2 separate regions of the Homo sapiens genome follow, and region 2 is linked to region 1. Evidence: fine-mapped expression QTL. A gene starts in region 1. The other region holds a variant in brackets. All regions are shown on one strand. Distances are between the middles of the regions.

The links. PIP is the estimated chance that this variant, and not a neighbour inherited with it, causes the effect.
Region 2: its variant is fine-mapped to the expression of CSNK2A1 in whole blood (TOPMed, PIP above 0.99).

The regions. Positions count from the first base shown.
Region 1 is chr20:541,883-546,276 of GRCh38, forward strand. It overlaps CSNK2A1 (casein kinase 2 alpha 1), which reads right to left and starts at 1,908. Exons shown (of 14, transcript NM_177559.3): 1 at 1,790-1,908. RefSeq lists enhancers at 228-921, 1,615-2,308, 1,794-1,943, 1,964-2,043, 2,154-2,203 and 1 more and a silencer at 1,414-1,473.
Region 2 is chr20:478,940-483,333 of GRCh38, forward strand. It overlaps CSNK2A1 (casein kinase 2 alpha 1), which reads right to left. Exons shown (of 14, transcript NM_177559.3): 14 at 1-4,394. Among named protein-coding and RNA genes, the nearest start is that of TBC1D20, 19 kb to the left of the region's middle. The variant T/C (reference allele first, on the strand shown) is at 2,472.

The DNA of each region.
Region 1 (4,394 bases):
GTATTTCAAAGTCACAGAAGGACAAAAACATGCCCTGCTAAGACTGCAGGTGAACTTTTGAGAATACCACGGAGGAGAACTAGTATTGGTACTGGACTTTCAGCCCCAGGTCCACCAAGCCAGTAAAGCCAAATGACTTACAACAAAACCCTACAACAACTACAAAGATACTACTCTAAAGCCCTGTCTACAGTCAAATTCTTGACTATAAATTTTACTTAGAACAGAAGAGCCCCAAATATACCAGCTAGTCCCTTTACAGTGACAGGTAAAAGCTACTTACTACACTTACTACCTGCCAGACACTGTAGTAAGCACTTGACACAAATTGTCTTATTTACTCTTCTCCGTAAACTCACAAGCTAGAAAATACCATCATCCCCCTTTTACAGACGGGAAAACTGAGGCTTAGAGAGTTTAGGTCACACAGCTAAGTAGCAATGGCCCTGATATTTGAGAACCTAGGCAGTCTGGTTTTTAACCACTGGGCCTACACTGCACTCCTCAGATGGAATGAAGTCTCCAATTCTTGGAAAAATCTTCCCTTCTTAGTTTTCTTTTTTCTTTTTGAGGCGGAGTCTCGCTCTGTCGCCCAGGCTGGAGTGCAGTGGCGGATCTCAGCTCACTGCCACCTCCGCCTCCCAGGTTCAAGCGATTCTCCTGCCTTAGCCTCCCGAGTAGCTGGGATTACAGGCGCGCGCCACCAAGCCCGGCTGATATTTGCATTTTTAGTACAGACGGGGTTTCACCGTGTTGGTCAGGCTGGTCTCGAACTCCTGACCTCGTGATCCACCCGCCTCGGCCTCCCAGAGTGCTGGGATTACAGGCGTGAGCCACACGCCCGGCCTCTCTTCTTAGTTTTCATTTCCTCTCCCCATGTCCCATTCTCGTAGAATTAAACAGCTGAAAAGTAATCAAGTCTTCCCAAATAATTTGCCACCTTCTTTTCAAAACTCTTTCCTCCACACAAAGCAATAGCCAAGATGCAACTTCTCCTGACCCTGACTCTGCTTCCCCAAAACAAACTACAGAAGCTCCACCCATCACCTGCTTAATCTAGCAATGTTCCAACACTGCAAAAAACACACAACGAAAAACAAAATTGAAAAGTCCTACTCTTTCAAAAGGTCACCAACATATGTATACCCTTAGCCAAGCTTTCTCTCCATACCTCTTTTTCTATCCAGGCTCCTAACTAGTCCTTAACTCCAACTCCAGACGTTCTGCCCCACGTCTTGGTCCCTTCCCCCTTTCGCCCCAGCAACCCCGCCTGGGGTTCTCTCCACCTCGCACCCACTCTGCAGGTGGGAAGCTCAGCCCCGCCCAGAGGGACCCTAAGAAGGCCCCTACTCCAGCTGCCCAGTTTCGCGGGAGGGTTCACTGCACACTACCCAGCAGGCACCACTCCCTCCGCACCCTCCCCCAGCACCCCCCTGCGGCCCCACCCCTCAAGTTCCCTTCCCCCTCTGACGACCCCCTCCTCCAAGTTGTCCCCTAGTCCCCACCCAGTTCAGTCCTCTCCTCTGCAATAAGCTGGACTCCGGCAGCCGGTTCCCACCCTCACATCGGCCTCTGCCCCCAAACCTCGCCCTCCGCCCTGAGGGGTGGCCCCTGGGCCTCCCCGATGGGCTGCAGGGGCCTCGCTTGGTTTATGTGTGAAGGTGGGGGCAGGGGAAGGCGACGGGCCGCTCAGGAGTCTGCTGGAAGCGTGAGGGTCGGCCGCGCTCCGCTGCCCTATCCTGGGCCCACCCCACCCGCCAACGACCTCGCCTGGCTGCTCCCTAGGTACCTGTGGTGGAAGCGGCAGCGGCGGCGGCCGCTCTCCCCTCTGCTCACACAGACAATATGGCGGCGATGGAGGAGGAGACACACGGCTCGGCCGCCAGCCGCAGGGACCAGAGCGAGGCTGCAGCCGCTGCTGCCGGAAGCGGAAACCCCCTCCTACCAGGAGGCGGGGCGAGACAGCTTCCGACTCCGCCCCCAGAGGAATCTCTCTGAATGCGGCCATGCTGGGATGTCCTATTGTAACCTTAGGGATTCAGTTCTGGCCTAGGGTGCAAAATGGAAGGAATCCCCAACGCAAAGCAGAATAAGGAGACTTGCAATAGTTAAGCGCATTTTATTTCAATAGTGTTAACAAGTGACAACAGAGAGAACACGAACCTCCCATTAGGTGAACAGTTGGTTTGACCCAAGTTAAGATGGCGGTACCCAGGTTTCCCACACTTCACCCAGCTGGCCCCCCTTTCTTGAAAAGAACCATGCGCGACCTGCAGAGCTGTAGAGCCAAGCATTCTGGGAGCTGAAGTCTCTTTTGCTCTGACCCCTCGTTTTAAATTAGGGTTTCAGCAACACTTTCTATTCAAACTTGGAGTTCGGAAGAAGTGAATGAAAGTTGGACCCTAGGAAGGGCATGGCGCAGGAGTCTGAGAAGTGAGGATACTAGCTCTCAAGAGACCAAGGCCCAATTCCTTCCTCCTACAGGAGTCCTGCCAAGAGCTGTGCGTCCAAAATACAGTGTTTTTTTTTCCTTCTATCTGCCTCCCACCCCTGCTCTCCTTGCCCGAGCTACCTCCCCAAAACAGCCACAAAGCACTTTCTACCATGCAGAGCTCATCATGGTCTCCCTATGGTCAAAAATCTCCCATGGACCTCTTTATGCACCAAAGATAGCCCAAACTCTTCACTTGACATTCAGAGTCCTCCATAATTTGGCCAAACCCTCCTTTCCAGCCTCCTATTCTGCCACTCTCTTCTCAAATTCCGGAAGATTCCACCCACAAGACTGCAAACAATTCCTGGAACTTAGCTGTGTTGCCTCCCTCCCTTTACACTGGCAGTTACTTCTCTTACTGTCACCTCATGGACTGGATAATTTCTGTATGCCGATTGAACTAATTCAGGGATCCTTTCCTCTAGGGGTCTCCTCTCTGTTTAACTCCCTCCAACCCAGACACTATCAGTCAGTAACCTGAGGACCTCAGTCTGTCTCCTCCATCAGACTGGGAGCCCCCAGTGGACAGGGCTCCATCTGATGATCAACCTCTCCTTTGCAGGCCCTGATAAAAGCTGAAGCGTCTAAGAGTTGCTGAAAGGAGTTCAAGTATTAGTCTCACCTCTGGTGGGACAGAGGTGTGAGCACTGGAACGAGGGTGAGGAGGCCAGGTTCTTTCAGTACCAACCATTATCCCTAACTGTCTCAGAATAGCTGGTTGTCTCAGGAATGGGCCTCTCCACCCTCCACAGCCCTGCCTTCACAGTTTGTCAGCTGACTAGCACCTCTGCTCCCAAAGAGGCACCTCTTCCCCATGTGGGGTTAGGGCTGGTGGTGGCTGCAGACTTATAGTGATGGCCTCAGGGAGGTGGCTGTGGCCTTCTCTGGACCTCATCTGCTAGACAGCTTGTGACATCTGATCCCAATTGCCTGGGAACCCACAACAGTTTTTCTCTCAGTGTCCTGTAACTGGGCCTCAATTTCCCCACTTGTGGACTGAGGAGGTTATACAAGATAATCCCAAAGTTTCTGGGAAGCCATCTTCCAGGAAATGATACCCTTCTACCTACCTCTCGAACGTATCTTTTTGGCTCTTGTGGCTTTGTTTTTCCCAACTGTATTCACATTTGTTTAACTCACAACAATTCATCATTTGCTATGAGCCAGACACTGTGCTAGGTACTGGGGATGTGTTATGAGGAAGACATACACCAGTTGCTCACTGGTGGAGCTTACCTTCTAAAGTGAGAAGCAAGTAATGCACAGGTAAACAAATGCATAAACAAAGTAATTTCAGGTAGCAATAAGTGCTACGAAAGGAAAAGATAAGTAGCTGTGAAGTATAGAGCTTTAGCTTGAGTGGTTCAGAAGGTCCCTTTGAGAAGGAAACAGTAAGTGCAAACGTCCCAAGGCAGGAAAGAGCATCACAAGTTTGAAGAAGGAGGCCATGGTGGCTGAAGCACTGCAAATAAAGGGAAGAAGAGGAAGAAATATGGTGGGAGAGGTGGGCAGGGCATTCAGGTCATGATAAGGAAGCTGGGTTTTCATCTGAGTGTAGTGAGGATATTTCCCATTGCTTAGCCTTCATGCCTTTCCAATCTCAGCCTCTCTCACAGCATTAGTTCTTCATTCTTCTTCCTAGTTCTGGCCTCTATCCATGACTTCATTCAGAGGGCTCACCTGGGCACACATATACAACCCTCATACTCATGCAGGACATAATTGAAACCCAACTCCTGCCGTCTACTACGCCAGCCTCATGTAGGTCTCCGGTCTCAAGAGGCTTCCCATCCCAAGTGTTCACCTAGTTGTAGACTTAACATTTATCCTTAACTCTTACTGTCTCTGATCCCCCACATCACACCTCTCAGGCTAGTCTTTCTGCAAACAACAGCAGCAG
Region 2 (4,394 bases), 63 kb before region 1:
ACAAAAAACTTCTAGTGAGTAGAGCGACAGGGAGACAAATCCAGTTTGTAATTTGCTACAGTGCAAAATATCTGGCTTTCCATAGAGGGAGTGGGAACAAGGCAATGCTGGCCTTCATTCAATCAGAAACTTGACTTGTACCCGTTGAAAACCTGTCATGTTTAATGCTTGGATATTTTTTCTTCTAGTAAAGACACTTTACTGCCACCTGCTGGAAAAGAGTCAGAAATTTTCCAAATGCAAACATCTATGGCCTCCCTATAATGTAGCATCCTTTTACTGTACATAGTCTGCACAACTGTACAATTTAGAAGAGAAACCAACATTTGGTGTAACTCTACCATATACCAGGCATCTGTCATAGAATCTGAACAACCGCTCTATGAAATCAGTACTTATACCCCAATTTAACAGATAGGAAATATTGGGACCTCTGGGGAAGGGAGGAAGAAGAGGGTATCACCAAAAAAGGGCAAAAAGGGGGCTTGGTCTGTATTGGCAATGGAAATTCAACTTGGGTGGTAGGATTATGGATGTGTTACAGCTTTCTTTATAATTTGGTACATGCCTAAAATGTTTTACAATAACAATTTAAATCACCTGTGAAGAAAAGATTCAGAGAGGTTAACTGATCAAAAAAATCACACTGCCAGACAGAACTCTGTTAGAGGTAGACCACTTGCAGTAACATTACATTGCTTCTCTAATGGTTAAATTTAGCACAGAATCAAAGGAGAGCTATAAAGTCTAGGAAGTACTTATTTACATAGGATTGAGTCCAGAACATCTTGTGACACCATCTACATATGTTTTACTTGGAGAATAGTCTGAATTTCGTATTACACGTTGAGCATTTCTAATTTGAAAATACAAAATCCTCAAAAATCTGAAATTTTTTAAGCATCAACATGATGCCTAAAGTAAATGCTATTTGGAATATTTCAAATTTCAGATTAGGAATATTGAACTGGTATGTATTCCGCAAATATTCCAAAAATCCAAAAAAATTCAAAACACTTCTGGTCCCAACCATTTTGGATAGGGGATATTCAACCTATATTACACACAGGTAATACAGCAGGGGAAAAGCAGGGAGACTGCAGCATCTAAGTCTACTAAATTGGCCAGGATCATTCCTTAGTCTTCAGATACCTATTTATCAGGGTCTCATTAAATAAAGTTACTTGTCATGTTAGTTCAGTCTGGCCTGTGGCTTGTAATTATAGCTGCAAACTCAAGGGCAAAGTTCTTAGGATTTTGAGATGCTCTTTATGCAACAATACTTCCATTTACTTTGTGTGTGTGTGTGTGTGTGTGTGGGTGGGTGGGTGTGTGTGTGTAGGGAGAGAAAGGGGGCAATGGAGTGGAGAGTGGAACTACAATTTATTAAGCACCTATTATTACAAGCCAAGTAGGGTGTTAAATATTTTCCTCGTGCCATTCCATTCAATACTCTTCGATCCTGAGGGAAAACGAACCCACTTAAAAAAAAAAACAAAAGGTTTTAATGAGGATTGCATAAGACATGCAAGGTCACCAGGGAGTTTACATGCAAGTGGGGAGATACAAAATAATACAACAAAAGTTCAGGTGTTCTGAGGAAAAAGAAGGGCAAGGGTAAGTGATGACAGTGGGGGAAGTCGGATTCAGGATAAACCAATTTTAGACTCATTTTTTGAGGAAGGAACTGAGCATGACCTTACCACACAGCCTTTTTAGTTAAGTGTTTCTTTAACTAGGAAAAGGCCCTGGGAAGACAGGCTCTCTACTATGCAAACCCAATTCCAGTCTTGGGAGAGAATTTGCTGGTGGGACAAAATCAGGTTTTTCAAGAGATGCTTAAATGGTCAATTCTAATTATAACCATACTTGTCAAAAGGTGAAGCAAAGATGAAAGTTAAAAACTAAGAAGAAATTAAAATTCCCAAATCTGTCAACCAATCTCTAATTTTCTCTGCTACTTTAGGACTATAGTAATTAGCCATACCCTGAGGATCTACTTTACAAGATATATTCCTCTGACAGTCCCACTCTAACAATTTAATCTATCTTATGTAAGCTGGACAGGCATTTCAAGTACAAGAAACAGAATTCAAAACGTGAAAACGGAGCCATCTATCACACACGGTGTCGGTTGGAGAAGCATATTGCTCAGGCTGCAGGGACATTTCATTTATTTAAATGTTTTTATTAAAAAAAATTAAAGACCTTCATGGCACAACTTCTTCCCAGCACAGTTATGGTTTAGTCATACCAATTACAATACAATTACAACCAATAAAGCAAGGTGGGGAGGGCCTTCTGGCTTCAAACTTAAAAAAAAGCAGAGGAAGAGGGGAGGGACCACTTCAAACAAAGTTTAAAAATACTTTAAAAAATCTTTCAGAGTAATTGCCAACATAACCTTTCATGTTGGCCATTCCATTTCCTGCCATCTAAGCAATGCAGACACAGGTAGTGCTGAGAAATAG[T/C]GTCCCAATACAAGGTATACAGATGAGGTAATTTACAACAACACGTAAGTTGTTACTCTGTAAACCCTTGCCTCCCCCCCACCCCCCACCCAATTGGGTCTTTTTTTTTTTTCTCTCTCTCCATGCTTCTGCAGTGACTCTTAAGTAGCATTTTTAAAAACTTCTATTTATTTTAAAAGGCTCTTGGGTGGCACCTCAGAGTCCTCTGCATTCACCTTCGGTTTATTCCAAGGTCTGATGGGTGTAAGGAGGTCCAGCTGTCTGCAGCTCTCCGCATCAGCCTAAGCTACACCTCAATTTCCGAGCTACAAGGATAGGGTATGAAGTCTTGATTTACAACCCTCTCCCCACCTCAAAAGAAAGAACTCATTAGTTATAAGTGTCCTGTTCAAATCACAATCCAGTGCAAACATAATCACAAATTGCATCTCTGGCACATCTGGTGCTTTTAGCTTCTGCACAAATTCAACATGGTAACCCTCACAGCATTCTAGGGCATAAAAGGGTCAAGTACAATAAATATCCACTGTAAGTGGTCATAAGGAAGAAAATCACCCTGCCACACAGTCAGAATGTTTTCCCTTCAGCTCTCCCTACCGTTGAGAAGCGCTATAAAAGGAGGCTTTAGCGTCCTCTAAAGTTTACCATTATATTCACTAAAGCCACCACCTTGATAAAGTTACTAAAGCCAAGATGGGTTACAAAGTTAGATAAGTTCATTAAATTCAACTCCCCAAACAATTACGTTTATCTATGATGCCTAGGCGAGAAAGGCCTGTGAATCTATAAGGTAGGAGAATGGGGAACTAAGATTTTAGGCCTTAAAATATGTTGGAAGAATTTTTCCTAGTTCCCACAAGCAGCTACTGTAATGAAATAACAGGAGAAAATACAGAGCTGATGGTTTTGCTATTGTGCTTAAAAAACTAGGCTTCCTCAGTGAAGCACCTGATAAACTTAGGTGGTTGGATTACAGTGGAAAGTCCACTTTACACACACACACAAACACACAAAAACTGGCGACTTTTTCCATCCCCAATCCCTGCACTGCTGAGACACAAAATGAGTTTTATGGCAAAGGATCCTTAATCCCCAGAGACGCTTTGGCTTGTGGTGCTTTTTTTTTAAGGCCTCTCTGCTCTGCCCGGTACCATGGGTCGAACGAGGGGTGTATAAAATGGGGGCCTTGGGAAGCCTCCACGGTACAGGGCTGCAGGCCCCTCAGATGTGAACATGAGACACCCACCCAGCAAGACCTTTACACAGGGAACTTAAATCTAACCTTGATAAATAAAACCAAACGTTTATTTACACCAAAGAATTCCAACACTGGATCTTTCACATATGAAGGACAAAGTATTATATATATACACACAGCAAGGGGTGGCGGGGCTGTAACAAGAGAGTTTATAGTTTTCCCACAATTACAGGTCTACCATTTCAGCTTCAATGGAGATAGTGGCTCTGCTCCTACCTCTCAAGATACATTTACAAGACTGAGGAGCAGGTCTTCTCACTGGATGGCATGTGAGGGAAGGGGACGGTCGGAGGAAAAGAAGGTAGAAAGCTTAAAATGGAAGTCAGTGTGGCCACATCTCCCATTAGCTCTAGCATGAAACCTGTACAGACAATGTTTGTTTCTTTTGTAAAAAGCAGTAAGTTATGCCCAGTAACTAAATGAATTCAAAATGGCCAAGACAAAGAAAACTAAGAAAGATTTTGCCTTCCCTCTCCTACCAGCTATGGAGCACAGCATGTTGGGAGATGAACAGGGAAAAGACCAAGGTAAGGAGCCTGGGAGGGAAGGTATCAACATTTTAAACTGAACTAAAAATAAAAGTATAAATGAGTTGGATTTAGGGTTAGATCAGTAAGACATGATTCTTACTGAACAGAAGTTTTTAGTATCTGTCTGCATTTTGG